Linked DNA regions of Homo sapiens. The protein of the gene in region 3 binds, or shares a complex with, the protein of the main gene of each other region. Each region holds a gene or a part of one and is shown on either strand. Other genes may lie near its edges.

The links.
Region 1: TAF8 (region 3) and TAF5 share a complex: the UniProt entries of both Homo sapiens proteins name them as parts of the TFIID basal transcription factor complex.
Region 2: TAF8 (region 3) and TAF3 share a complex: the UniProt entries of both Homo sapiens proteins name them as parts of the TFIID basal transcription factor complex.
Region 4: TAF8 (region 3) and TAF13 share a complex: the UniProt entries of both Homo sapiens proteins name them as parts of the TFIID basal transcription factor complex.

Annotation. Positions count from the first base shown.
Region 1 is NC_000010.11:103,384,216-103,390,449, forward strand, and holds the end of TAF5 (transcription initiation factor TFIID subunit 5), read left to right. Parts: intron 1-1,110; coding exon 1,111-1,275; intron 1,276-2,959; coding exon 2,960-3,137; intron 3,138-3,305; coding exon 3,306-3,483; intron 3,484-3,790; coding exon 3,791-4,008; 3' UTR 4,009-4,850; downstream 4,851-6,234. UniProt on the Homo sapiens protein: The TFIID basal transcription factor complex plays a major role in the initiation of RNA polymerase II (Pol II)-dependent transcription.
Region 2 is NC_000010.11:8,003,505-8,010,504, reverse strand, and holds part of TAF3 (transcription initiation factor TFIID subunit 3), read right to left. Parts: intron 1,428-7,000; coding exon 1,175-1,427; intron 1-1,174. UniProt on the Homo sapiens protein: The TFIID basal transcription factor complex plays a major role in the initiation of RNA polymerase II (Pol II)-dependent transcription.
Region 3 is NC_000006.12:42,052,811-42,061,454, forward strand, and holds part of TAF8 (transcription initiation factor TFIID subunit 8), read left to right. Parts: intron 1-2,720; coding exon 2,721-2,819; intron 2,820-3,141; coding exon 3,142-3,204; intron 3,205-4,578; coding exon 4,579-4,703; intron 4,704-8,644. UniProt on the Homo sapiens protein: The TFIID basal transcription factor complex plays a major role in the initiation of RNA polymerase II (Pol II)-dependent transcription.
Region 4 is NC_000001.11:109,065,312-109,073,955, reverse strand, and holds part of TAF13 (transcription initiation factor TFIID subunit 13), read left to right. Parts: intron 1-7,723; coding exon 7,724-7,821; intron 7,822-8,644. UniProt on the Homo sapiens protein: The TFIID basal transcription factor complex plays a major role in the initiation of RNA polymerase II (Pol II)-dependent transcription.

The DNA.
Region 1 (6,234 bases), on a different chromosome or scaffold from region 3:
ATGATTACAATGTCATCCTATGTGTATAGGTATTTGCCTATTTTTCATGATCTCTAACACTGTAAAAATGGGTGGAGGGTGTTTTGTATTCATAATACCATCAGTATATTACTTGGATAGATAATAGCTTTCAGGCCGGGCACAGTGGCTCACGCCTATAATCCCAGCACTTTGGGAGTCCAAGACAGGCGCATCACCTGAGATCAGGAGTTTGAGACCAGCCTGGCCAACATGGGAAATCCTGTCTCCACTAAAAAGTACAAAAATTAGCAGGGTGTGGTGGCGCCCACCTGTAATCCTGGCTACTTGGGAGGCCGAGGCAGGAAAGTCACTTGAACATGGGAGGCAGAGGTTGCAATGAGCCGAGATTGCACCACTGCACTCCAGCCTGGGTGATAAGAGCAAAACTCCATCTCAAAAAAAGAAGAAAAGAAAAAAAGATAATAGCTTTCCATCCATCAAGGTTTCATCATTACGAAACTTTGAGAATTAGGTTTTTTGTTGCTTGATAAGGTTTTGCCAGATGATACATTTTTGAGGGAAACGTCTGATTTCAGTGAAAATTGTAATAACCTTCTGACTATCAATCTTTTGTGTTTATGCTTGAAAAAGGTAGAGAATTATTAGCATGTCTGTAGTTTTTTTTTCTTTTTCTTCAAAAGACATTTCCTTTTTAATTCTTACATAGCTTACACAGCATGGGAAAATAGCATCTTTATTTTAGGGTCAAAAATTGTTGAGTTTTAAGTGACATATCACATTTCTTAAACTTTCTCAATTGACCTTATTTGACTATACTTTGTTAATTACCCCTGCTATTTTTTTCTTGTAAAGAACTCTGATTTTCCCTAAGTTTTTGTATCATATTACCTCATTCAGTAGGTGCTCGGTATATGTAGAGTGTCAGGGTTAACATTAGTTTGGTTAGTTCTTTCAATTGATACCTACTGTGAATTGCGTGTATGAATTAAAAGTGAGATGCAGCATGTTAGGTATATTTAATATAGTCAAATATATATAAAATATTAAATGTATTCAAATGTATATAAAACTGGGCAGGTGACCAAAGGTTACTCTGGGAGTCAAATATATCACCTTCTCTTCTCTCAGGAACTATCTGCTTTCCTCTTCAGAGGACGGAACTGTTAGATTGTGGAGCCTTCAAACATTTACTTGTTTGGTGGGATATAAAGGACACAACTATCCAGTATGGGACACACAATTTTCTCCATATGGATATTATTTTGTGTCAGGGGGCCATGACCGAGTAGCTCGGTAAGAACACTGTGATCTTATGACTGGGTCTATTCAATGAACAGAATGGTTTCTTGTTGGGAATTACACAGCCAGCCAAATTCATTTACACTTCCATTATTGAGGTTCAACTTTCTGAGAAGCTTTTGCATTTATAACTTATTTGAAATTGGGGCCGGGCGCAGTGGCTTATGCCTGTAATCCCAGCACTTTGGGAGGCCGAGGTGGATGGATCACCTGAGGTCAAGAGTTTGAGACCAGCCTGGCCAACATGGTGGAACCCCGTCTCTACTAAAAATACAAAAATTAGCCGGGCGTGGTGGTAGGCACCTGTAATCCCAGCTATTCAGGAGGCTGAGGCAGGAGAATCATTTGAACCTGAGAGGCGGAGGTTGCAGTGAGCCGAGATCGCACCATTGCACTCCAGCCTAGGGGACAAGAGCGAGACTTCATCTCAAAAAAAAAAAAAAAAAAAAAAAAAAGAAAAGAAATTGGGGCAGGAGTATTATTATATCTGCAATTACATCTATATGAATCCTGGTTTTTAAAAAATAGTTAATTAACAATCCTCCCTCCCAACCCCATCAGATACTTAACCTTGTCTTCCATACCACTGTGAGCACCTTTATGTTTCTCTGTCATCTGCTTAGAAGTTGAGGATAAGGTAGTTCAGGTTAGAAACTATTTGGCCAGGTGCAGTGGCTCACGCCTGTAATCCCAGCACTTTGGGAGGCCAAGGAGGGCAGATAACTTGAGGCCAGAAGTTCCAGACCAGCCTGGCCAACATGACGAAACCCCGTCTCTACTGAAAAAAAAAACAAAAATTAGCCGGGTGTGGTGGCACGTGCCTGTAGTCCCAGCTACTCAGGAGGCTGAGGCAGAATTGCTTGAACCCAGGAGGCAGAGGTTGCAGTGAGCCGAGATTGCACCACGGCATTCTAGCCTGGATGACAGAGTGAGACTGTCTCAAAACAAAACAACTATTTGGTGGCCAGAACTAGGGGAAAATACTTTTCTGTGGTTTAGACTAGGAATAGAGGAGGAAGAATATACAGAGAATTGGAGTTCTAGAACTTAAGTTTTGGCTGGCTACAGTGGTACACGCCTATAGTCCCAGCTACTGGGGAGGCTGAGGTGGGAGGATTGCTGGAACCGAGTTTGAATCCAGCTTGGGCAACAGAGCAAGACCTCAGCATTTTTTTTTTTTTTTTTGAGACAGAGTCTCGCTCTGTTACCCAGGCTGGAGTGCAGTGTCGCCATCTCGGCTCACTGCAACCTCTACCTCCTGGGTTCAAGCAATTCTCCTGCCTCAGCTTCCTGAGTAGCTGGGATTACAGGCGTGCGCCACCATGCCCAGCTAATTTTTTGTATTTTTAGTAAAGACGGTGTTTCACCATGTTGGTCAGGCTGGTCTCGAACTCCTGACCTCGTGATCTGCATGCCTCGGCCTCCCAAAGTGCTAGAAGTGTAAGCGTGAGCCCCCATGCCTGGCAAGACCTCAGCTTAAAAAAAAAAAAAAATTGTACCAGATGAACTCTTAGGACTGTGAGTCTCATTTTTCTTCCCCTCAGTTAACTAGTAAGTGGGGGGCCCACTCAGAACTAACTTTTTATGTGGATGTTTCTGTATTTATTTTGTATAGATTTTTGGCGTTTCACAGCTATCTACTAATTGTCATCTTTTGCTTTCAATAACTTTATAAAAGGCTCTGGGCTACAGACCACTATCAGCCTTTAAGAATATTTGCCGGCCATCTTGCTGATGTGAATTGTACCAGATTCCATCCAAATTCTAATTATGTTGCTACGGGCTCTGCAGACAGAACTGTGCGGCTCTGGGACGTCCTGAATGGTAACTGTGTAAGGATCTTCACTGGACACAAGGTATTTTACACTCTTACTATTCCAGCATCCAAGGTTGCTTTCAAAATAAAAATATTTTTTAAACAAGTGACACATAAATTTTAAAGATACCATTCTTACTACAAAACTTTAAAATTTTGTCTTATTTTCCTAGACATACTTTGATCTTTTCTATGAACTTTTTTCTAGGGACCAATTCATTCCTTGACATTTTCTCCCAATGGGAGATTCCTGGCTACAGGAGCAACAGATGGCAGAGTGCTTCTTTGGGATATTGGACATGGTTTGATGGTTGGAGAATTAAAAGGCCACACTGATACAGTCTGTTCACTTAGGTTTAGTAGAGATGGTGAAATTTTGGCATCAGGTAAATGACTATTAATGGCTTTACGATAAATGCTATGTTAAGAGGAAACAGTGTTGACGACTGCAATACTAAGTCCTTATGTTTTAGGTTTTACTTCCCTTTAGCTATGATTCCAGAGTGTCATCCTACATCAATCACTTCTCAGGTTAAAGTACTGCTTGATAATGCTCCTTAGGAAGGAATAGAGTTATTGGTCAAGTTTAGATTTTTCACCCAAAATGTACAGTAAATACATAGTGTAGTGGACAAAATGTCCGAATGTAAATATGATGGATGCAACTAATGGTTTCCTTTGACTTCCCCTTAGGTTCAATGGATAATACAGTTCGATTATGGGATGCTATCAAAGCCTTTGAAGATTTAGAGACCGATGACTTTACTACAGCCACTGGGCATATAAATTTACCTGAGAATTCACAGGAGTTATTGTTGGGAACATATATGACCAAATCAACACCAGTTGTACACCTTCATTTTACTCGAAGAAACCTGGTTCTAGCTGCAGGAGCTTATAGTCCACAATAAACCATCGGTATTAAAGACCTTTTGGAAGCTACTGTTTTTAAAAAGGGAGACTAAAAGCAAATACCTCAGTGATTAATATTTAAGCTACAGAGAATGTTTTTGTCTATATGGATCTGGAAGTATGCTGCTTGGAAAAATCTGAACAGGACAGTTCCACGTTTCTATAGCAACCACATTTGACTAATTTCCGTTAGTTGAATAAGAGGTATTATGATCATGGAGGGGACATTTATGGTGCTTTGGATTGTGTGGAAACTATGCATTTTCTGTTCAAATGCTATTTTAATTTATTACATTTAGAAAAAAAGTTGATTTCAATAATTCATCCTGCTTCAAGATTCAAATTCAGAAATATACTATCATCTTGAATTTTAGCTGAAGAATCCTATGAGCATGTATGTTTCTGCTGTAAAAACGTAGTTACTGTATGGCACTCAAAAACTATGTTAAATGATCCACTAACTTTTTTTTTCTTGGCCCATGATTAATGGAATGTATGTAACTAGGTAGGGTTCCTTTCTTAGATCTAGAGGAAGTACAGCCACCCACTGACATCTGAATTTATATACCTGTTGAGTTTTGAGTGCACCCAAACACTCGATAAACCAGGTGAAGAAATTTAGCTTCCATGTTCTACTTCAGCTAAAACAGCTACATACAACCTAGTACACTTGAAGTCAGACAGACATTTCAGTTGCTTACCTCCAGTACTGAGCCTTGCTTTGGGAAACTAAAAGATTTAGACCAAGTCACTGCCAGTTTTTGCCTTTGTTGCATTTTGTACAGTTTTTATATTTTTGATATCTTGTAAATAAAGACAACCAGCTTTTCCAGGTTCATAATTTATTGTACAAATTGAATTATCACATGATGAGTTGGCATTAGCTTCTCCAGGCATGGGAACTTAACAGATGAGGTTAAGAACCGTAGACAGTTTAAAATCCTATAAACAAAGCAAACAGTTTAGATACAAATGTGGCCAGCTTTACTCTTAAGACACTCAAGAATTACTAAGGTAACATGAACCCACTGAAACTGAATGCGAATTTATTAGATTGTCAAAGATGTAACACCAAAAAAATTAAAGTGTATCTCAGATTAATACTTTTTTTTTTTTGAGACAGAGTTCGCTCTTGTTGCCCAGGCTGGAGTGCAATGGCACAATCTCGGCTCACTGCAACCTCCGCGTCCCAGGTTCAAGTGATTCCCCTGCCTCAGCCTCCCAAGTAGCTGGGATTACAGGCATGTGCCACCACACCCGGCTAATTTTGTATTTTTTAGTAGAGACAGGGTTTCACCATGTTGGTCAGGCTGGTCTCGAACTCCTGACCTCAAGTGATCCACCCGCCTCAGCCTCCCAAAGTACTGGGATTACAGGTGTAAGCCACTGTGCCTGGCCTCAGATTAATACATTTTAACCTAACATTCCACCTTTAACAAATAAGCTACCAACAATTTAGTATGATCCTAAAGGTATACTATTGGAAAAGTCTAGCATATAAAGTAACATCTTTTTTTTTTGTTCGGAGACACAGTCTCGCTCTATCCCCCAGGATGGAGTGTAGCAGCGCAATCTCGGCTCACTGCAACCTCTGCCTCCTGGGTTCAAGTGATTCTCACGCCTCAGCCTCTCGAGTAGCTGGGATTACAGGTGCCTGCCACCACGCCCGGCTAATTTTTATATTTTTAGTAGAGATGGGGTTTCACCATGTTGGCCAGGCTGGTCTCGAACTCCTGATCTCAGATGGTCCACCCACCTCAGCCTCCCAAAGTGCTGGGATTACAGGCGTGAGCCACCACGCCCAGCCTCTCCATTTTTGTAATGGGGATACTACCACCCTTCTGAAGTTAGGAGGTAATTAATATAAAAAATTGGGCAAAATACTACCTGTTCGTCAGGAATAAGCCAGTGATCACTGCATTCTCGGATATGCACTCCCTAAGGTCAACTGTTTTGAGATTGGAAAAGCTCTTAAGCATAGAAGAGGCCAGGCACAGTGGCTCATGCCTGTAATCCCAGCACTTTGGGAGACTGAGGCAGGTGGATCACTTGAGCCCAGGAGTTTGAGAGCAGCCTGGGCAACATCACAAAACCCTGTCTACCAAAAGAAAATACAAAAATTAACTGGGTGTGGTGGCATGCACCTGAAATCCCAGCTATTCAGGAGGCTGAGGCGGGAGGGTCACTTGAGCCCGGGAAGCAGAGGTTGCAGTGATCTGAGATCG
Region 2 (7,000 bases), on a different chromosome or scaffold from region 3:
CTATTATTCAGAAACACTACCTGGCTCATAATATCAGTGTACATTCTATAAATTATACTCTTAAGTGAATAACTGAATTGCTTGATCAAGAAATTCAATGTGAGATTTCAGTACCACCATGCGTCTCTACATTTACAGATTGATATTACTGTATATATGCATATAGTCATATCCCAAAACAATATAAAAACAAGCTTTGATATGATTTATGGAGGCTGACTATGTGAACATTGTGATGTAACTTTTCAGCCAAAAGCTTGAAAATGCAGTGAAAAACTGCAATGAAGAAATGCATCTTGGCTGGGCATGGTTGTTCATGCCTGTCATCTCAGCACGTTGGGAGGCAGAAATGGGTGGATTGCTGGAGCTCAGGAGCTCAAGACCAGCCTGGGCAACATAGTGAAACCCTGTCTCCACCAAAAATACAAAAAACTAATCGAGAGTGGTGGTGACTGCCTGTGATCCCAGCTACTCAAGAGGTGGGAGGATCGCTTGAGCCTGGGAGGCAGGGGCTGCAGTGAGCCGAGATCGTACCACTGCACTCCAGCCTCGGTGACAGAGTGAAATCCCCTTTCAAAAAAAAAAAGCCGGGCACGGTGGCTCATGCCTGTAATCCCACACTTTGGGAGGCCGAGGCGGGTGGATCACCTTAGGTCAGGAGTTTGAGACCAGCCTGGCTAACACGGTGAAACCGTTTCTACTAAAAATACAAAAAATTGGCCAGGTGTGGTGGCACGTGCCTGTAATCCCAGCTACTCAGGAGGCTGAGGCAGGAGAATCGCTTGAACCTGGGAGGTGGAGGTTGCAGTGAGCTGAGATCTCACCACCGCATTCCAGGTTGGGCAATAAGAGCGAAACTCTGTCTCAAAAAAAAAAAAGAAAAAAAAAGAAACGTGTCTGGCCAGGGGCAGTGGCTCAGGCCTGTAACCCCACCACTTTGAGAAGCTAATGCAGGAGGATCGCTTGGGCCCAGGAGTTTGAGGTTGCAGTGAGCTATGATTGGGCCACTGTACTCCAGCCTGAGCCACACAGGGAGACCCTGTCTCAAAAATAATTAAGTAAATAATAAAATTTTGAAGAGAAATGCGTCTGAAATTCGATAGTGATTCAGAGCACACACTTGTCTCGATCTGAAAACGTCTCCATGCTAACCGCGCGGGCGGCAGGTACGCACCACGTAGGTGCTGACCGTCTCAGTCACCACGCTGCGCACGGGGGCTTTGGCACTGGCCCCGGAGGCGGCGGGACCCGGGGAGGGCAGCAGGGCAGGGCCCGCGGCGGCCTGGGCGAGCAGCGGCAGCGGCACGGGCGCAGGGCTGACGAGCATGGGGCCGGGGGCGGGCGCGGGGGCCGGCGGTGGGGTCTTCGGCCTGTTCTGCGAGGGCGCCGGCTTGGCCTCGGGGGCAGGGACCACCTTGCTGATGACACTGTCAACAAAAGAAGAGAAGGTAAAAGTCAAAACAGGATCATCATCGAACCAAACCCGTGCTTAAAAACATGATCGTAAAATAGCTTTTCTTCCAGTAGCGAAATACTTCAACGTCTAGAGGCAGCTCAAGAACTGAGTTCCAGGCCCTGCATGAAGTGGCCTCTCCACTTACTCAGACGAATTTTTCATTTTCCAAACTTCCCCTCAATGGCCAGACAGTTAGAAATTTCTAGCAACCAATACACATGCATTGTTCACAGAAATATGACTTCAATTGCCTGTTCCTGTGCTGGGGCAGAAGCTCTGACGGCTTCAGAGGTGGCGCTCCCCACCCCCACCTCTGCTGAGTCCTCGGGGGGGCCTGACAGGGGCTGCTCCTTCCACTGTGGCTCCAGCTGGAGAGGACCTGGAGCAGCCTGTGCTCCACACTGGAGATGGGCAAGAAAGACACATTTGCTGTTGGAAGCCCTTGAGATTTTTGGGTTGTTAATTACCATAAACCTAACCTGGCCTAAGCTGCTGGACAGAGCAGCTTAAAAAGAAAAAGTTTCTATTTCTCTCTTCTTAATTCCAATGTTTCTTCTTAATACTCTCAATGCCATTGTCAATAAAACTGTGAAGACTTTCTCACTTCTGGGTTTGGCTTTGATTGCCAGGTTTTAAAGATTGACCGTTCAGGCTGGGCAAGGTGGCTCACCCCTGTAATCCTAGCACTCTGGGAGGCCGAGGTGGGTGGATTACCTGAGGTCGAGAGTTCAAGACCAGCCTGGCCAACATGGTGAAACACCGTCTCTACTAAAAAATACAAAAAATTAGCCGGGTGCAGTGGCGTGCACCTGTAATTCCAGCTACTCAGGAGGCTGAGGCAGGAGAATCGCTTGAACCCAGGAGGCAGAGGTTACAGTGAGCCGAGATCTCGCCACTGCACTCTAGCTTGGGCTACAGAGTGAGACTTCGTCTCAAAAAAAAAAAAAAAAAAAAAAGATTGTTCCCAGACGGGCTGCAGAGGTAAGGAGGAGGTAATGCAGCGGCAGCTTCTGTCCTGGTGATGCTGCCGCAGGTCGCTAGAGCTGTGGTACTGTGACCCTGCTCCTCCACTAACAGCATCCTCTTCACACAACTCTCGCCAGTGGAAGCAGCTCTGGACTTGGGGCCAGGACATCTGAGTTCAAATTCTACAGCCGCCAGAGACTAGACCTGTGGCCTTGGATTACTCAATTTATTATAAAAAGCACTATTTATTGAGGACCTATAAGAAGTTAGAGGTTATACTAGGCACTTTACAAACATCATCTCATCCAGTCCTTATGAGAACATCAAAGAAGTAATGATTACCCCATTTTGTAGATGAGGAAACTGAAGATCAGCAAGAGAAAGGAATTTGAGTAAACGGGTGGCAGCTTTTGAACCAAAGTCTACTTGATTCCAAAGCTTGTTTTTAAGCTTCTTTATTAAAAAAAAAAGGTATATATATATATATATATATATATATATATATATATATATATATATAATTTCACACACAGAGAAAACAATATAACAGACAGTTAGGTAATAATCAGAGATAAAATATGTTAGCCTTTGCCATATTTGTTTCAGATGAACTTCCTTCCCTGCCCCAGAGCAACCACTGCCCTAAGACAGGTATGTTTTTGTTTATTGTTCTTGGTACTTTGTTTTTTTCTCTGTACCTTTCCTGCCTTTGTAGGTGTCCATAAACAATACATACTGCATTACTGTTTGCTGTCTTTTAACTTTTATACACACAATGTCACACTCCAGTTGTCCTCTGCAACTAGCTTTTCCCACTTAGTTTTATGTCTCCTGATTTATCCATGCTGACACATAGAGATCTATATTATTTATTCTAATTACTATATTGTATTCCATGGTATTAGTAAGCCAAAGGTTTTTGTCCATCATCCTACTGAAAGTAGGAGACATTCACTTGTAAACTTACACACTGACTCATAAATAGAACTGTTCAAGGACTTCTCCAAGCCCCATCCCTAGAAATGAAGTTTCTGGGCCATGGAATATGGCCATCCTCACCTCACCAGGAATTGCCAGCCTGTGGACTGTCCCAGCTTGTCTCTTTCTACTATTCCACACAATTCTTTAGGCCTTGTTTTTCTCAGCAACAAAGTGAAAAGAAATGCAGTGGCCTCAGAGGGTTGTAGTGAGAACCTCAATGTGGAGAAACACTTCAAAAACTGCATCCAGATGGGAACTGCCGGCCCCGTGCCATGTTCACGGCTGTTGCTCACGACAGCCTCTGGCCTCATTGCTGCCAGCCTTCACGGTTCCACTTCCTCATAGTCCTAGTTTAGAAACCACTTTCACCAAAAGGCACTGACTCTTTGCTATTCTGATCATAAATTCATAAAACATTAAGTTACTTCAAAAACTTCACCATTATTTCAGCAAGTAACTTCATTACTGCTGTCGAATTGTTCTCTATTTGTTTCCTGCAAGGGTGATCATCTTCCTAACTTGGATACAGCCAAAGATCAAGAGACTTTAGCACAGGCTTGTTGGTGCAGCAGACACTTCATAAATGCTTAACATCATAACCGATGAATATTTATTGAGCACTTTCTATATGTCTGACTGTCCTAAGCACTTGAAAGCCAATTGTGGGCCAGGCACCACTGTGTTAAATATTTACTTGCCTTGCCTTATCTAGGTTTTTTTTTTTTGAGATGGAGTTTCACTCTTGTTGCCTAGGCTGGAGTGTAATGGCGCAGTCTTGACTCACTGCAACCTCCGCCTCCTGGGTTCAAGTGATTCTCCCGCCTTAGCCTCCCAAGTAGCTGGGATTACAGGCATGCACCACCACGCCCAGCTAATTTGTGTGTGTGTGTGTGTGTGTGTGTGTGTGTGTGTGTGTGTGTGTATTTTTTTTTTCAGTAGAGACGGGGTTTCTCCATGTTGGGCAGGCTGGTCTCAAACTCCCGACTTCAGGTCATCTGCCCACCTCAGCCTCCCAAAGTGCTGAGATTACAGGCGTAAGCCACGGTGCCCGGCCTTGTTTGTTTTTCATAATGACCACATGAGGCAAGCTATTATTCTGCTTTTTAAACGAAGAAACCAAGGCACAGAGAGATTACGTATCTTGCATAAATTAACACAGGTTACTACTACATGGCAGGGCCAGGATTTAAACAAGGCAGTCTGATTTTAGAGCCTGTGATCTTAATAAGTATATGACACTGTCTCTCAATGTGTACTGAGGTTTGCCTTACATAAAAGGCATGTAATGTAGGAGTTCAAAGTTATCGCTATGGCATTTATATCCAGAGGGTAAGCATTCTCTATTTTTATGGTTAGACTAAAATTTTAAAACACTGCTTCTAGAGGCAGTTTCCCATACTGGTTGAACACACAAGTGATGGAACCAAAGCTAAAGGGAAAAGCAGGAACCCTGAGAGGTAAGCAGAACACAGATGCTTTACCCCAAGGGCATTTACGCATTAGGCAAGTCTGATATTTGGTTATGATGAAGAGGACGAATGTCAAAGCCCAGGATCTGCCCGAAGTGGAAGGTGTAATAGAACTCCCTCCCGACACTAAGGATTCCCAATGGGCTATACCCATAAGGTAAAGATGCACGAGAATGGCATGAATTTTCACCTCTGGTGTTCTAGGATACTTTAAAGTAATTTGGACTTGCAATGTGCCCAGGCACACAGCACAATCCTGAGGGGAAGTATCTTAAAATCTAGGTCTCATATTAATACAGATAATTATCTTTAAAAAAAATAAGCAGCACATAATCAAAGATAATCAAATCTATGAGGAAGTAAGGTGGGATCAGGGAAAACTGTTAAGAAATAACAGCTAGTATGAAGAGACAAAGACCACAGATACAAGAATTATCAACTATAAAACAACTTTGCTTACAATGTTAAAAAAATAATAAAAGGCAAAGGCTAGAAATATAGGTCGTAGGAAGTCACAGAGAGTGACTTGATCTAGTGGATTTGAAAAGAACCAAACAGACCTTCTAGAAATTAAAAAATACAGTAACTGAGATTTAAAATTGAAAGGAGGGATTTAACAACAGATTGGAAACAAGACAGAACTATAAACTGAGTATTAGGACAAAATAAATTTTCAGAGCATAGCCTAAGAAGCAAAGAGAATACAATAAAAGGTCTAATTAGTGCATGTTTGATCATAATTCTAGAAGAAAAATGGGGCAGAGACGAATGTTAACAAAGAGTACCTGAGACTTTTACAGAACTGACGAAAGATACCAATCCACAGATTTATGAAGCCCAACACACCCTAGGCAAGATAAATAAAAATAAATCTATATCTAGGCACATCAAAGTGAAGCTATAAAATATCATAGATAGAGAGGAAAAATCTGAAAGGCAGCTAGAGGGAAAAAAGAACAATTCCTCTCAAAGAAGAAACAGGTGACAGCTGACTTCTTAATTAGCAATGATGAAATCTAGAAGATAGTGGAATAACATCTTCAATGTGCTAAAGAAAAATAAATTATGTCTTTGAAAACATCTTTAAGGAATAAAGATGAAACAAAAACATTTACAGGCAGGCAAAAGCTAAGAATTTGCCACCAGCACATTTAAAAAAAAAAATTCTAAAGCAACAATTCTCAAATTTTTCGTCCTAGGGCCCCTTTAAATTCCTAAAAATTATTAAGAACTTAAAAAATGTGCACTATATCTGTCAATATTTACCATATTAAAAATAAAACTGGACCAGGCACATTGGCTCATGCCCGTAATCCCAGCACTTTGGGAGGCCGAGGTGGGTGGATCGCTTGAGGCCAGGAGTGATTCACCATGGCCAACATGGTGAAACCCCATTTCTATTAAAAATACAAAAATTAGCTGGGTGTGATGGCGCAGACCTGTAATCCCAGCTACTCCAGAGGAGGAGGCAGGAGAATCACTCAAACCTGGGAGGCAGAGGTTGCAGTGGGCCGTGATCATGCCACTGCACTCCAGCCTGGGTGACAGAGCAAGAATCGGTCTCAAAAAAAATAAATAAAATAAAATAAAAATAAAACTGAAAAGTTTAAAAATATTTAGTAATTCATTTAAAAGTAACGACAATGAACCCATTATATGTTAACAGATAACATTTTTTTTTATGAAAATAACTATATTTTCCAAGACAAAAAACTTGGTAATGACTGGCAATGTTTTGGTTGTTTTTTCTTTGATAATGGCGTCTTGCTCTGTTGCCCAGGGTGGTCTTGAACTCCTGGGCTCAAGCAATCCTCCTGCCTCAGCCTACCTAATAGCTGGGATTACAGGCGCATGCCACTGTGCCTGGCCAAGACTGGCAATGTTTTAAATTTTTGCAAATCTCTTTAATGTAGGCATATGTAACTAGAGAAGGGAGGAGTATTTTAAAAGATTTTTTGGATAATGGTGTAAGTTCTTCTTTAATGCTGCATTAAATGCAACAAATGATAGTTTCTTATAAGTTGGTTGCAATGTGTAATCTGAAATCATATCAACAGACATTCATATTCTGTTACATTAAAATTTATTGCTCTGTTTAGCACTATGAACACAAAATTTACCCATGCAT
Region 3 (8,644 bases):
GGGCAGAGGGAGATGTGGGGTGCAATGCAGGCCCAATAAAGAAGTGGACAACTTAGCCAGGACCCCTGGAGCATTATTGCCCATCAAGCTGAAAAGGCCCTGCCTTTATACTCAGGTCTTGATCAAACAGTAGATGTGGGCTACCCCAGGAAGGGTGATCTTGGGCAAGGTGGCTCTCTGCAGCTGATATTTGGCACTTTTAAATACCAAATGTTTTCCTAAAGCAGTGATCTCAATCATTGTGGCTTCAGAACTCCTATATTTATTTATTCTTATTAATTAGAGATGGGGTCTTGCTGTGTTGCCCAGGCTGGCCTCAAACTTCTGGACCCAAGCCTCCCACATAGCTGGGACTACAGGCATGTGCCACCACACCCAGCTCTCAGAATCCCTTTATATTAATAAACATTGAGGACCCCAAGTAGCTTTTGTATATGTGTATTTGCCACGTTAGAAAAAACAAATTTTGGGTCTAGGTGTGGTGGCTCACGCCTGTAATCCCAGCACTTTGGGAGGCCGAGGCGGGTATATCGCCTGAGGTCAGGAGTTTCAAGACCAACCTTGCCAACATACTGAAACCCTGTCTCTACTAAAAATGCAAAAAATTAGCTGGATGTGGTGGCGGGCGCCTGTAATTACAGCTACTCGGGAGGCTGAGGCAGGAGAATCGCTTGAACCCAGGTGGCAGAGATTGCATTGAGCCAAGATCACACCATTGTACTCCAGCCTGGGCAACAAGAGCGAAACTCCGTCTCAAAAAAAAAAAAAGAAAAAAAAAGAAGAAGAAATTTTGAAAATAAGAATGTACAATCACATATTCTGTTATTCATCAGACCCATGTTGTCATCAAAAGTCACATAGACTCAGGAAAACTACCTGAGAGAATGAGAGTGAAAAAGTCAAATAACAACTTAATTTTATTATGAAAATAGTTTTGACCTGTGGACTTTAGAAAAGATTTTGGGGCCTACCACAGATTCCCAGGCTACTACTTTTTGAACTTTGTCCTAAAGGAATGAATTAATAGTTCCCAAGAGATAAGAATGCAGTTCTTGGAACAATCTTGGAATTTAGAGTTTAAAAGTCATGTCTAGAGGCTGGTATTAGTGACTTGCTCAGTATAGCAGGGGGGTTGGTGGTAGGTGGTAGGTCTCTTGTTAGACACCCTTCCCTGTCAAGTACCACTTGCTTTTATCTTCTGAGCCACTGGGCCCCTAAAGTAGGAGTTCTTTACCTTTTGAGACCCCTTTGTACATTTGATAAAATCTGTGGACCCATTCCCCAAAAAATGCTTTTTTTGTGTTTAAAATTCAGCACAGCTTCAGAGTATTCATGAAACCTCCTGTCCACCTTGGAAGCTCATTCACAGAGCCGAGCTTCAAAAACTCCATCTTAGAAACCTTTCCCCTTTCCCCAAAAGACTTTAACGTGACTCTTAAATAGAGGTTCAGCTTCAGGCAGAAGAAAGAAAAATTGCCCATCAGAGAATAAGACCTTTTTGTGTGTGTGGTAGTGAGATATTCATAAAAAAATTTATCATTTTAACCATTTTTAAGTGTACAATTCAGTGGTATTAAGTACATTCACAATGTTGTGCAGCCATTTACATTATTTCCAGAACTTTTTCATCATTCTAAACAGAAACTCTGTACCCATAAACAATAACTCCCCATTCTCCCTCCCCCTCCATCCCCTGGTAACTTCTAATCTACTTTCCATCTCTAGATACCTCATATAAGTAGAATCTTTATTTGTCTTTTTATGTCTACCTTATTTCACTTAGCATAATGTTTTCTTTTTTCTTTTCTTTTTTTCTGAGATGGAGTCTCGCTGTGTCTCCCAGGCTGGAGTGCAGTGGTGCCATCTCGGCTCACTGCAACCACCTCCACCTCCCAGGTTCAAGCGATTTTCAGCCTCCTGAGTAGCTGGGATTACAGGTGTGTGCCACCTCACCTGGCTAATTTTTTATATTTGTGGTAGAGTTGGGGTTTTGCCATGTTGGCCAGGCTAGTCTTGAACTCCTGACCTCAAGTGATCCACCTGCCTCAGCCTCCCAAGTGCTAGGATTACAGGCGTGAGCCACCACACCTGGCCTTAGCATAATGTTTTCTTTTTCTTTTCTTTTTTTTTTTTTTTGAGAAGGAGTTCTCACTCTGTCGCCCAGGCTGGAGTGCAATGGCACAATCTCTGCTCACTGCAACCTCCTCCTTCCAGGTTCAAGCTATTTCTCAGCCTCCCAAGTGGCTAGGATTACAGGCGCCTACCACCAGGCCTGGCTAATTTTTGTATTTTTAGTAGAGAAGGGGTTTCGCCATGTTGGTCAGGTTGGTCTCAAACTCCTGACCTCAGGTGATCCACTGGCCTTGGCCTCCCAAAGTGCTGGGATTACAGGCCTGCGCCACCACACCTGGTCTAGCATAATGTTTTCAAAGTTCATCTATGCTATAACATTACCAGAATTTCCTTCCTTTTAAAGGCTGAATAATATTCCATTGTATGTATACAGCACATTTTGTTTGTTCATTCACCTGTTGTTTCTACCTTTTGGCTGCTGTGAATCATGCTGCTGTGAACATTGGTGTACTAGTAGCTTTTCGAATCCCTGCTTTCAGTTCATTTATGTATATACCTAGGAGTGGAATTGTTGGCTCATCTGGTAATTCTATGTTTAACTTTCTGAGGAACTGAGAATAAGTTTTATGCCTTTAATCCCCTCTTAGACATTTCAGAAATTGGGAGAAGTGCCAAGTCTTACTGTGAGCACACAGCCAGGACCCAGCCCACACTGTCCGATATCGTGGTCACACTTGTTGAGATGGGTGAGTATACCTTCAGTTTCCAGTTCTTCGATGCAACTGGGAGAGGAGTCCCTAGGAATCAGGCATGTCTGCTAAGTGTTCTTGGTTTCCCTCATGGTTCTCTTGAATTGCTTTGAGCTTGAGAGAGTTATCAAGAGAGATTCCTCTGAACACATCTAAGAGGCCTCATAATTCCCTGTTAGGGAATTCTGCCAGAGCTTCTTTTGCGTGGCTGCAAGGTCATTGAGTTGAGAGTTTAAGCCATTTGTCCATACTACTACTATTCTTTCTGTATTCAATATCCAGTGGTCTGGGCAGTGATTTTTGTTTTCCTGTCTCTTAGGTTTCAATGTGGACACTCTCCCTGCTTATGCAAAACGGTCTCAGAGGATGGTCATCACTGCTCGTAAGTGACTTTGAACTGAGGTACTTAGCAATTTTTCAATTAATGCTTGTGGAATGAAGTAATTGAATATGGTAGGGATTGGATTAGTAGCTACTTCCTTGTTGTGGGCTCTCTTCCAATGTTTGGGGCTACCTACAATATAATCTTTATTTGGGCTAGTCTGATTAGCATGTGAAATTCAGTCACCAAAAGGTAAACCATCTTTGAGATATTGCTGTGTTTCTTGTGTTCTAGCCCCAGAAGGGCAAATGATGCTGCTTGGAAAAATGAAAGTTTTTGTTCTTCTTAGATTAAGGGTTGGTAAATTGTGGCCTATGGGCCAAATGCAGCCTGCCTCCTGTTTTTGTAAATAAAGTCTTATCGGAATGCAGCCATATTTACTTATTATCTGTGGTTGTTTTCATGCTATAATGGCATAGTTTAGTTGTGGTAGAGACTGTACCACATGCAAAACCTAAAGTATTTATTATATGGCCCTTTACACAAACTTTGATGACCTCTACTTTAAGTAAACCTGGGTGCCATAAGCTGAGTAGAGAGTAACCAGTTTGGGCTTGTAGGACCTGGAGAGAGTTAACTGGATTTTTTTCTTTTCTTTCTTTTTTTGAGATGGAGTCTCGCTCTGTTGCCCAGGCTGGAGTGCAGTGGCACAATCTCGGCTGACTACTGCAACCTCTGCCTCCGAGGTTCAAGCTATTCTCCTGCTTCAGCCTCCCAAGTAGCTGGGATTACAGGCGCTCGCCACCACACCCAGCTAACTTTTATATTTTTAGTAGAGACAGGGTTTTACCATGTTGGCCAAGCTGGTCTCGAACTCCTGACCTCGAGTGATCCGCCTGCCTCGGCCTCTCAGAGTGCTGGGATTACAGGCGTGAGCCACCGCACCCGGCCTGGATTTCTTCTTTAAAGTCACTTTTTTCTTGTTGGCATTTTTTTAAAAACTCCCTCTCAACATAGCAGTGGAAGGTGCCATTTTCAATCCCCTCTTGTTATGATTAAGCTCACACTTAATGTCCCCAGCTCATTGTTCCTTTTTGTTATCCAAGGTCTCTGAAAAGAGAACCAGCAGCCCATGTAACCTGCGTAGCTCCTCAGCATGCTGTTTTACGTAGTTACTGTGGCCACAGCCACCCACCTCTACCTAAGAGGCTTGTGGGCAGATTGTTGTCAAAGGGAACGTCAACCAAGATTAGCCAGCAGGGCTGGGCATTGTAAGCCATCAAAGACCTTTTATCGATTGAAATACAAAATGCAACTTGTTTAGAAAATTGAGGTCTGGCATTTTTTTGAGAAAAGGAGGCTTTGGGGAGAGACCATAATCTGTAGAAATCAGGGTCTTGGGTGGAGGGGTAATCAGTTGTGACTCTGTTGCAGCTCCGGTGACCAATCAGCCAGTGACCCCCAAGGCCCTCACTGCAGGGCAGAACCGACCCCACCCGCCGCACATCCCCAGCCATTTTCCTGAGTTCCCTGATCCCCACACCTACATCAAAACTCCGGTGAGTGATGAAGCACTGGGACTGCGCGTGGTGTAAAGCACGGAGTCAGTTCCTACTGACTGTCACGTGGCAGAGTCCAGTCCAAAAGCTTGTTGATGAAAGAGTGGTTCAAAACTCAGAATGTGGCCGGGCACATTGGCTCACACCTGTAATCCCAGCATTTTAGGAGGCCGAGGCAGGAGGATCACTTGAGCCTGGGAGTTCAAGACCAGCCTGGGCAGCAGAGCAAGACCCTGTCTCATTTGAAAAATAAATAAATAAAGAAAAAAAAAAGAATTCAGATTATCTTTCATAATTGAGAAACAATTTGGCAAATGAGAATTATGTTCTCAAGTTTGCCAGCTAAAGTATAATTAACAAAGAAATTGAAGCTGGCCCCAGTATTGCCTGTCCTACTAAAACACAAAAGTACATAGCCGCATAGGAACAAGACTGAAAAGGTATTCCACTAAATGTTCATAGTAATTTTGGGTTGAGATTATAGGTCATTTTGTTTTGTGTTTACTTTTCTGAGTTTTCCAAATTTTCCATAATAGGAAAATTATTTTTTCAATTGGGGGAAAAGTTACTTTAAAAATATTTAGTAATGGCCGGGAGCAGTGGCTCATACCTTTAATCCCAACACTTTGGAAGGCCGAGGCAGATGGATCACCTGAGGTCAGGAATTCAAGACCAGCCTGGCCAACACAGTGAAACCCCATCTCTACTAAAATTACAAAAATTAGCTGTGCGTGGTGGCACATACCTGTAGTTCCAGCTACTCAGGAGGCTGAGGCAGGAGAATCTAACCTGGGAGACAGAGGTTGCAGTGAGCTGAGATTGCGCCACTGCACTCCAGCCTAGGCGACAGAGCAAGACTCTGTCTCAAAAAGAAATAAATAAAAATTAGTAATGATAATGAAATGGAACTTATCACTCTGAGCTCTAGGTCTGAATGAGGAGAAGATGAATTATCCTCTGTGGTTTGAATGTGTTCTAATTTGCCTGAATGGCAGTTTTACCTTCCGTTGGGAAGGTGCCCTCCCACACTTCCTTTGCTTCTGCCTGCATACCATATAGTGATGGCAAGCCCTCACGTCCTCTGGGCATTTTTCCATACCTTAGGGTGGGGGAGAGGGAATAGTAGCTGCCCAGCTAATGCAACATAGCCCTTGCCCTTGCCCTTGGTCAGATCTCTCTATTAGTTTCCTGGGCTGCTGTAACAAAATGCCACAAACCAGGTGACTTAGAACAACAGAAATTTATTGTCTCACAGTTCTGGAGGCTAGAAGTCTAAAAGCAAGGTGTCATGCTCCCTCTGAAACCTGTAGGGGAGTCCCTCCTTGCCTCTTCCTAGCTTCTGGTGGTTGGCCAGCATTCTTTGGCATTTCTTGGCTCATAGATGCATCACTCCAGCTTTCTGTCTTCACATGGCATTCTTTTTTGTGTGTGGTTGGGGGGCAGAGGGGGAGACTGGAGTTTTATTATTACTCAAATCAGTCTTCCCCAGCATTCGGGGAGCAGAGTTTTTAAGGATAATGTGGTAGGTCGGGGGAAGCCAGTGAGCCAGGAGTGCTGATTGGTCAGAGATGAAACCATAGGGACTCAGGGCCGGGCAAGGTGGCTCACGCCTGTAATCCCAGCACTTTGGGAGGCCGAGGTGGGGGGATCATGAGGTCAGGAGATCGAGACCATCCTGGCCAACATGGTGAAACCCCGTCTTTACTAAAAATACAAAAAATCAGCCGGGCATGGTGGCGGGCACCTGTAGTCCTAGCTACTTGGGAGGCTGAGGCAGGAGAATAGTGTGAACCCGGGAGGCAGAGCTTGCAGTGAGCCGTGATTGCACCATTGCACTCCAGCCTGGGCGACAGAGCGAGACTTTGTCTCAAGAAAAAAAAAAAAAAAGAAATCATAGGGACTCAGAGCTGTCTTCTTGCACTGAGTCAGTTCCTGGGTGGGGGCCACAAGATCAGATGAGCCAGTTTATTGATCTGGGTGGTGCCAGCTGATCCATCAAGTGCAAGGTGTCTCAACACTGATCTTAGGAACAGTATAGGGAGGGTCAGAATCTTGTAGCCTCCAGCTGCATGACTTCTAAACCATAATTTCCAATCTTGTGGCTAATGTTAGTCCTACAAAGGCAATCTAGTCTCCAGGCAAGATGGAGGTCTTCTTTGGGAAAAGGAGTGTCACTGTCTTTGTTTAAACTCTAAACTAAGTTTCTCCCAAAGTTAGTTTAGCCTCCGCCCAGGAATGAACAAGGACAGCTTGGAGGTTAGAAGCAAGATGGAGTCAGTTAAGTTAGATCTCTTTCACCGTCTCAGTCATAATTTTGCAAACGTGGTTTCAGTCCTTCCCTTTGGGTTTTATAACACCTTAATCTTAAGGTGTAGGCTGTGAAGATGGGAAAAGGCTATCAATTGCTCTGGCTTCTTCCTGCTGACAGGGCACATTATGGGAATGGGAGTGAACCCGAAGGTGAGAAGAGTGGAACTGGTTTGCAACTGTCTGAGTGTACTCATGCAGGCCTGGCTAGGCGTTCATGGCTTGCATGGCACAAACATTAGTACTCTGTAGTTTTACTACAGTGTTTAAGTGAAACAGCCCACTATAAGGTAAATAACGAGTCCTAGGATGAGGAGTACAATTCCCAATTTTAAAAGCAAAGATTTGGAAGCACTAGTTTGGGGACTTCTAACCCACAAAGACTTTAGAATTTAGTCTAAACTGCAGAAAAAACCTCAAGAACAGCTAACAACAGTGTACTATAGTTTTTCTTTTGAAGCATAATTTTTCTCTCTCCAGTCCCCATTTTTATTAAAAACAAATCATGATACAACTGATTTGTTTACAAAATAAACTTTAGTCTTACTGTACTTGGCCCGATTATTTGCATAAAGTGCAGCAAGAATAATTATTTTTCACTTAGACTTTTTAAATTGGCTTTGATAGAACTCTGTTCCATGAAGAATCTCAGATAAGACTTTTTAAAAGCCGAGCCCAGCCATGGGTTTGTACCCTCAAATACCTATGAGTTGGGCAAATTTGTCTCCTCTTGAGGTCCCAAGATAGCTTGGGGTTCCTGAGCCTGTTTGAAAGTGACATTCTTTACTTACCACAGGTCAGGAACCTTGTACAGAGACTCTGTGTGGACGGGGTATAAGGCCAGATTCCCCAACGGGCTTTAATTGGCTATATAAGTCAACTTTGATTCTTTAAAAAAAAGCATGCCATTCCAGTCAAAGCCTTGGTAAAATAACCAATTTCTCCAACTGTGGCCTGTTACAAAAGAAAACAGATTCTTATTGCACTTATGCAATTAGCTATACTGCCATAAATTGAGAATATTCACAAATAGTTTCCAAATTCTGGAGAAATCAGGTAGAGAGGAACAATATGCTGTAAATTTTGTTCACAGGAGTTTATTTTACTCACATGATAAAAGTTGCAAATAGTTCTAAAGAAATAATTTCTCTTGACTCTGAAAACAAAAGGTTTAGCAATGTTTAACACATTAGCTCTCCGTGAGAGTCCTAGAAGTTTGTTTTTTTCCTCTATTCCAATAGCACAGTTCTTAAAGTTATCTGAGACCTGCACTTAGAGTCCTATATTTGATTATAAACTGCATTTTGAAAAGGACCAAAGCAAGATAAAATGTCTGTGGATGACAAAAGTCTATAGCCACTATTAAAGCTACAATTGACTAGGAATTTTGGTTACTTCTGTGGCATACAACAATTTTACATAGCAATTATAATTATTAATGTACACTAAACTATATCAACATTATAGAAGTTTCCCATAATTTTGGACACATACTAATAATATATTTATACAAATACAGTCTAAAGTAAACCAAACACCATTCACTCTTCTATTTGAAAGTTTTTCCTCTATTCTAATGTCACAATCTCCAGAGTTATTAATCAGAAACCTGCATTTATTAGCACCTGTTAAAT
Region 4 (8,644 bases), on a different chromosome or scaffold from region 3:
CTCCCAGACGGGGTGGCGGCCGGGCAGCGGTGCTCCTCACCTCCCAGACGGAGTAGCGGCCGAGCAGAGGCGCTCCTCACATCCCAGACGGGGCGGCCGGGCAGAGGTGCTTCCCCACATCCCAGGGGATGGGCAGCCAGGCAGAGACGCTCCTCAATTCCTAGACGGGGTGGCAGCCGGGCAGAGGCTGCAATCTCAGCACTTTGGGAGGCCAAGGCAGGCAGCTGGGAGGTGGAGGTTGTAGCGAGCCGAGATCACGCCACTGCACTCCAGCCTGGGCAGCATTGAGCACTGAGTGAGCGAGACTCCGTCTGGAATCCCGGCACCTCGGGAGGCCGAGGCGGGCAGATCACTCGAGGTCAGGAGCGGAGACCAGCCCGGCCAACACGGCGAAACCCCGTCTCCACCAAAAAATACAAAAACCAGTCAGGCGTGGCGGCGCACGCCTGTAGTCAGGCAGGGAGGCTGCAACGATCCCAGATCGCTGCAGTACAGTCCAGCCTCGGCAACAGAGGGAGACGGTGGAAAGCGGGAGACGCAGACGAGGGGGAGGGGGAGGGAGAGCTTTTTTTGTATTTTTTGTAGAGACGGGGTTTCACTGTGTTAGCCAGGATGATCTCGATCTCCTGACCTTGTGATCCGCCTGCCTCGGCCTCCCAAAGTGCTGGGATTACAGGCGTGAGCCACTGCACCCGGCCTATAAATTGCTTTTTAAGTGAGCAAATGTAATTAGTGTTTTAATTTAGGGCAGAAGAACATACCTCCATTAGTTTTCCTCTTGCCTTTACAGCAGTAGAGAGGCTTCTTTGACTGTAAGCCACAGGTAATAATGGATCCTGCAACAGGTGTTGAGGGAGAGTAGCAAGTGAGTTGGGGCTTGGGCTTTGGACTAAGGCCCTGAACAAAGTAAGAAGGTGGTGAACAGCTGGGTGCAGTGGCTCACGTCTGTAATCCCAGCACTTTGGGAGACTGAGGCGGGTGGATCACTGGAGGTCAGGAGTTCGAGACCAGCCTGGCCAACATGATGAAACCCCGTCTCTACTAAAAATACAAAAATTAACCAGACGTGCTCGCTTGAACCCAGGTGGCAGAAGTTTCAGTGAGCCAAGATTGCGCCACTGCACTCTAGCCTGGGTGACACAGCAAGACTCTGTCTTAAAAAAAAAAAAAAAAAAGGTGGTGAATCGTGTAAGGCATTATAGTGACATGGAGGCTAGATGCAGTGGCTCACGCCTGTAATCCCAGCACTTCGGGAGGTCAAGGCAGGCGGACTGCTTGAGCCCAGGAGGTCAAGACCAGCCTGGGCAACATAGTGAAACCCTCTCTCTACAAAAAATACAAAAATTAGCAGGGCATGGTGGCATGCCCCTGTAGTTCCAGCTACTCTGGAGGCTGAGGTGAGAGGATGGCTTGAGCCCAGGAGGTGGAGGTTGCAGTGAGCCCAGATTGCACCACTGCACTCCAGCCTTGGTGACGAAACCAGACCCTGTGTCCAAAATAAATAAACAAATAAAATAAACAATAACATGGAGATTATAATGTATTGATTCTCCATCCTACCCCCTCAGTAGACGGTTTTGACCCTTTTTGGCAACACGAGGAAGGGAGAGCTGCTACTAATACTGATGATCCAGGCCAAGCCCTGGAACACAGCATGAAAATGTGCTCTCCATCTCCCAGTCCTGGGTCCTTTATGTAAAGTTATGTCTAAGTATTGAGAGATGAGGCCGCACAGATTTATGAATATGATTTATTTAGGCTGGGTTATATGTGAGCAGTTCCCAAATGCCCTTGAAACTACAGGGTCAGTATATATATATATATATATATATATGTGTGTATATATATATATATATATATATATATATATATGTGTGTGTATATATATATATATATATATATATGTGTGTGTATATATATATATATATATATATGTGTGTGTATATATATATATATATATATATATATATATATGTGTGTATATATATATATATATATTTTCTTTTTGAGACAGAGTCTCACTGTTGTCAGTCTGGAGTGTAATGGCGCAATCTTGGCTCACTGCAGCCTCTGCCTCCTGGGCTCAAGCGACTCTCCTGCTTCAGCCTCCTGAGTAGCTGGGACTACAGGCACATGCCACGACGCCTAGCTAATTTTGGTATTGTTAGTAGAGACAGGGTTTCATCATGTTGGCCAGGATGGTCTTGATCTCTTGACCTCATGATCCGCCGTCTCAGCCTCCCAAAGTGCTGGGATTACAAGCATGAACCACCGTGCCCAGCTTCAGCGTCAGTGTATCTTTTTTAAGAAAAATTATTTTCTTAATTTTTATTTATTTTCTTAGAGACAGGGTCTCACTCTTCTGTCACTGGGGCTGGAGTACAGTGGCATGATCATAGCTCACTGCAACCTTTAACTCTTGGTGTCAAGTGATCCTCCCACCTCAGCCTCCTGAATAGCTGGGACTATAGGTGCATGCCACCATGCCCAGCTAATTTTTTTTTTTTTTTTTCCTGAGATGGAGCCTTGCTCTGTCACCCAGGCTGGAGTGCAGTGGCGTGATCTCGGCTCACTGCAACCTCCACCTCCCAGGTTTAAGCAATTCTCCTGCCTCAGCCTCCCAAGTAGCTGGGATTACAGGTGTGTGCCACCATGCCCGGCTAATTTTTTGTATTTTTAGTAGAAACGGGTTTCACCATGTTAGCCAGGCTGGTGTTGAACTCCTGACCTCAGGTGATCCACCCCACTCGGCCTCCCAAAGTGCTGGAATTACAGGCGTGAGCCACCGTGCCTGGCCACACCCAACTAATTTTTGTATTTTCAGTAAAGACAAGTTTCACCATGTTGGCCAGACTGGTCTCAAACTCCTAGGCTTAAGTGATCCTCCTGCCTCAGCCTCCCAAAGTGCTAGGATTACAGGCATGAGCCGCCAGACACTGTTTTATTTTTTAAACATCCAAATCCTTTTCCATATTTTGTTTCCTCACTAATGCTGACCATTTCTTATTTCATTTCTCTGATGCTCCTTATACCATTATGTGGTTTTTACTTATTAGGTCAGCATAAGAAGGGGATCCTTGTACCAGAGCATCCCAGAGTGATGTTCAGTCGGTTGTTAGCAAAGACCTTTGTTCCACTGAGATTACTTTGTGATGACAGGAATTTGTAATCTTCAGGCTTCTCCTTATCTTACCTGAATATTCATAGAAGTTACTGACGAAAGATCTATTCTCCTGAACCTTTAAAAAAAAAATTTGGGGGGGACTGGGTACGGTGGCTCATGCCTGTAATCCCAGCACTTTGGGAGGCCAAGGTGGGAGGATCACTTGAGGTCAGGAGTTCAAGACCAGCCTGGCCAACATGGCGAAACCCCGTCTCTAATAAAAATACAAAAATTAGCTCGGCGTGGTGGTGCATGCCTATAATTCCACTACTCAAGGGCCGGGCACGGTGGCTCATGCCTATAATCCCAGCACTTTGGGAGGCTGAGATGGGCGGATCATGAGGTCAGCAGATCCAGACCAGCCTGGCCAACATGTTGAAAACCCATCTCTACTAAAAATAGAAAAATTAGCTGGGCGTGGTGGCCTGCACCTGTAGTCCCAGCTACTTGAGAGGCAGAGGCAGGAGAATCGCTTGAACCCGGGAGGCAGAGGTTGCAGTGAGCCGAGATCACACCACTGAACTCCAGCCTGGTGACAGAGAGAGACTCCGTCTCAAAAAATAAAAATAAAAAAAGAAAGCGTCAAGGTTTTGAAAGATGAAAAAGTCAAGGAACTATCGGATTCGAGGGAACTAAGGAGGCATGACAACTAAATAGTATGGGAACCTGAAACAGAAAAAGGACATTGGTGGAAAAACTTGTAAAATCTGAATGAAGTCTGTACCTGTACCGATGTTAATTTCTTAGCTTTGATGACTCCCTATGGTTGTATAACATGTTAACATAAGGGGAAGCTGGATATAGGGCATATGGGAACCCTGTACTATTTTTGCAACTCAGCTGTAAATCTAAAATTATCTTTTTTTTAAAAAGGCAAAAAAAAGTACAGAATCCAAAACAGAACGATAGGAACTATTGGCTCCTGTGTTTGTTTTTTTACTCCTGTTTCTGGACCTAAAGACTCTTGCCAGTGTAAAACCCTAGGGATATGTCTATCTCAGGCTGGTTTCCAAGTCACCCTTTTCTTCTGTAGGCCTGGTCTACTTTCTTCTCTTTGTACTTCTACTAGTTTTTACTTCTTCTAAATAGAGGAATTATTCTTAATTTACTCATTTCTTCCTTTAGAAGTATTCTATGAGTATCTTTTTTAAAAAAAAAAACTTAGGTACAATAAATTGTGCAAGTCTTAAGTGAACAGCTTGCTGAATTTTATGTATGCTATACAGTCGGCTCTCTATGTCATGGGTTCTGCATCCATGGATTCAACCAACCTCAGATGGAAAATATTCAGAAAAAAAAACTGTGCCTCTATTGAATATGTATAGACTTTTTTCCTTGTCACTATTCCCTAAACAGTATAGTATAACAACTATTTACATAGCATTTACATTGTATTAGGTATTGTAAGTAACCTAGAGATGATTTAAAATATACATAGGATGTATTTAGCTTATATGCAAATACTATGCCATTTTATATCTGGGATTTGAGCATCTGCAGATTTTGGTATCCACGGGAGGTCCTGGAACCAAGCTCCCAAGGATACTAAGGGACAACTGTATACATGTGCGCACACACACACACACACACTCACACACTTGTAATCACTACTAAGATCAAGATACAGAACACTTCCAGCATTTGACAGCATTTCTTACCATTTACATATACCCCTTTGATAATCTGATAAAAGTTATAATTATTCCCAGAAAAATGCCCATGTACAGATAATGTATAAAATTTTTCCGTATGATTTCAGGGTAGTCTCAAGGACTTCTTTTTTTATTTTTTGAGGCAGAGTCTCCCTCTTTCGCCCAGGTTGGAATGCATTGGCATGATCTCAGCTCTCCGCAACCTCTGCCTCCTGGGTTCAAGCTATTCTCCTGCCTCAGCCTCCCAAATAGCTGGGATTACAGGTGCGTGCCACCACGCCCCCCTAATTTTTGTATTTTTAGTAGAGACGGGGTTTCACCATGTTGGTCAGGCTGGTCTCAAACTCCCGACCTCAGGTGATCCGCCCACCTTGGCCTCCCAAAGTGCTGGAATTATAGGCGTGAACCACCGCGCTGGCCTTCAAGGACTTCTTAAAGCTTGTCTCTGGACTGGGAGTTTATAGGCGATAGGATAAGAACCTCTGTGGATCTCAGCTGGGTGTGGTGGCTCACACCTGTAATCCTAGCACTTTGGGAGGCCAAGGCAGGAGGATTACTTGAGTCCAGGAGTTCAAGACCAGCCTGGGCAACAAGGTGGGACCCTGTCTCTACGAAAAAATAAAAATAAATAAATAGTTAGAAACCAGTTCAAAAACTGCCTAGGCAACATAGCAAGACCCCTGTCTCTAGAAAAAATTTTAAATGGCTGGGTGTGGTAGCTTAGGCCTGTAATCCCAATAATTTGGGAGGCCAAGGCAGGCAGATCACTTGAGGCCAGGAATTCAAGACTATCTGGGCAACGTGGCAAAACCCTGACTCTACTAAAAAATACAAAAAAATTAGCTGGGTGTGGTAGCGCATGGCTGTAATCCCAGCTACTTGGAGGCTAAAGTTTGAGAATCTCTTGAATCCGGGAGGTGGAGGTTGCAGTGAGTTGAGATCGTGCCATTGCACTCCACCCTGGGTGACACAGTGACACTTCTGTTTCAAAAAAAACCCCACATATTAGCCAGGCATAGTGGCATGTGTCTGTAGTCTCAGCTGCTCACGTGAGCCAGGGAGGTTGAGGCTGCAGCAAGCTGTACTGCAACACCACTCCAGCCTGGGCGACAGAGCCAAGACTGTCTCAAAAAAGGAGAGCAAAAAAAAGAATTCACACGGATCCTGTCTGCCCTAAACTACAACTACCAACAAGTGCGATGCTGTTGTGGGTATGAGTAAAGACGCGAACCAGATCAGCTGGGTTCAAACTCAGGTTCCATCTCTTACTAGCTTTGTGACCTTGGGTAAATCAGTTACTGCAGTGCTTTAATTTTCTCATCTATAGAATGGGGATAATCAATAGTTTCTACCTTAAAGGATCATTGTGAGGATTAAATGAGTTATATATGTAAAGGACTTAAGACAGTACCTGGCATATAATAAGGGCTATATATGTTTTATCTTTTGGCAGTTATTTTTATTTGTCTGTATTAGACTTCTCTCTTATTATTTTTGAGACACAGTCTCTCTTATTATTATTATTATTTTTGAGACACAGCCTCCCTCTGTCACCCAGGCTGGAGTGCAGTGGCGCATTCTCAGCTCACTGCAACCTCTGCCTCCTGGATTCAAGCGATTCTCATGCCTCAGCCTCCCGAGTAGCTGGGATTATAGGCATGTGCCAACACCCCCAGCTGACTTTTGTGTTTTTTTTTTTTTTTTAGTAGAAACAGGTTTTCACCTTGTTGGCCAGGCTGATCTCAAACTTCTGGCCTCAAGTGATCTGCCTCAGCCTCCTGAAGTGCTGGGATTACAGGCGTGAGCCACCATCCAGGCCTACGCCCAGCTAATTTTTGTTTTTTATGTAGAGACAGGGTTTCGCCATGTTGCCCAGGCTTGTCTCAAACTCCTGAGCTCAAGCAGTCTACTTGCCTGGGCCTCCCAAAGTGCTGGGTTTACAGGCGTGGGCCACTGCACCCGACCTAGACTTATCCTTTGCATTTCCTATGGTTTCTTCAGATGAAGCCTGAAAGGGCTTTGCTGCAGTTGTATTGATCTAGGAAATGTCAAAATTCCTTGTAGTAAGCCCTCTGCTTTCTCATTTTGAGTACCCTGTTTCTTCCTATAAGAACAGATTTGGGGCTGGGCGCGGTGGCTCACGCCTGTAATCCCAGCACTTTGGGAGGCTGAGGCACGCAGATCACCAGGTCAGATCATCGAGACCATCCTGGCTAACACAGTGAAACCCCTTCTCTACTAAAAATACAAAAAATTAGCCGGGCGTGGTGGTGGGTGCCTGTAGTCCCAGCTACTCGGGAGGCTGAGGCAGGAGAATGGTGTGAACCCAGGAGGCGATGGAGCTTGCAGTGAGCCAAGATGGTGCCACTGCACTCCAGCTTGGGCGACAGAGCGAGACTCTGTCTCAAGAAAAACAAACAAACAAACAAACAAAAAAAGTATTTGGAGAACTGTCTCTCATGTCTTTTCCCCTATGGTAATATCAGTAAAGAGTCTGCCGTTTTTCCAACGCCCCACTGCCATGCCCACACACAAAAACCACCTCCAAAAAAGGCTAAGCTGTTGCTGTCTGTCCTGTCCTTTGCCAGAGTTTCCTACTTAAAGGTGTTCTGCTGGGGGCAGGGACTGGTAAGTAGATGCTAGAGATTAGGAAAAGACTGTTTACCTTAGGGTTCAGTAGGTGGGAGGAAGGAAGAGTTTTGCTGGAGGCTACGTGGGAACAGTTGGTCATCAGACTGTTCTTAAACCTTTTACACAAGAATCCATACTTGGAGATAACAAATACGATGTAAATATGTTTTCATACCAATATTATCTATAACTTGGTTCATTTCTACTTTATTTTTTTAAAGTATCAAATTGTTAAATCTGTAAAAGTAAACAAAAGTAAGTGATTGTTCTTTTACAGTGCGATGTATGATGTATGGCTTTGGGGATGACCAGAATCCTTATACTGAGTCAGTGGATATTCTTGAAGATCTTGTCATAGAGTTTATCACTGAAATGGTAAGATTCTTTCCTAACTGGTCTTAGTTAATTGAAGAATAGATTTGAAATATTAAACTTTAGGTAAGACTAGAACTTATGGCATCCCTTTGAAATAAGCTATCCATTTGAGTGCTTGTTTGCAGAAGTTATTGGTTACTATTTATCATTGAGGATGGAGGTTATACATGTATATTCTATCCCCCCTTCTTCCTTTTGTTTTTTTTTTTTTTTGAGATGGAGTTTCGTTCTTGTTGCCCAGACTGGAGTGCAATGGCACGATCTTGGCTCACTGCAACCTCCGTCTCCCGGATTCAAGGGATTCTCCTGCCTCAGCCTCCGAGGAGCTGGGATTACAGGCATGCATCACCACACCCAGCTAATTTTGTATTTTTAGTAGAGACAGGGTTTCTCCATGTTGGTCAGGCTGGTCTCAAACTCCCAACCTCAGGTGATCCGCCAGCCTCGGCCTCCCAAAGTGCTGGGATTACAAGCGTGAGCCAACGCGCCCAGCCTCTTGCATTTTTTATAAGGACATAATTATAAAATCCTTGAATAAAATAAAAATATTATCCATAATACCATTATCCAACATAGGTTTTTTTTTTTCCCCTCCTTTTCCAGTATTTAAAGATACGCAATTTTTTGTGTGTGTGTGTCTGTGTGTGTGACAGGATCTCACTCTGTTGCCCAGGCTGGAGTGCAGTGGCATGATCATTGCTCACTGCAGCTGAGACCTTCCGGACTCAAGTGGTCCTCCCACCTCAGCCTCCCAAATACCTGGGACTACAGGCACATGCCACCATGCTTTGCTGATTTTTGAATTTTTTGTAGAGACAGGGTC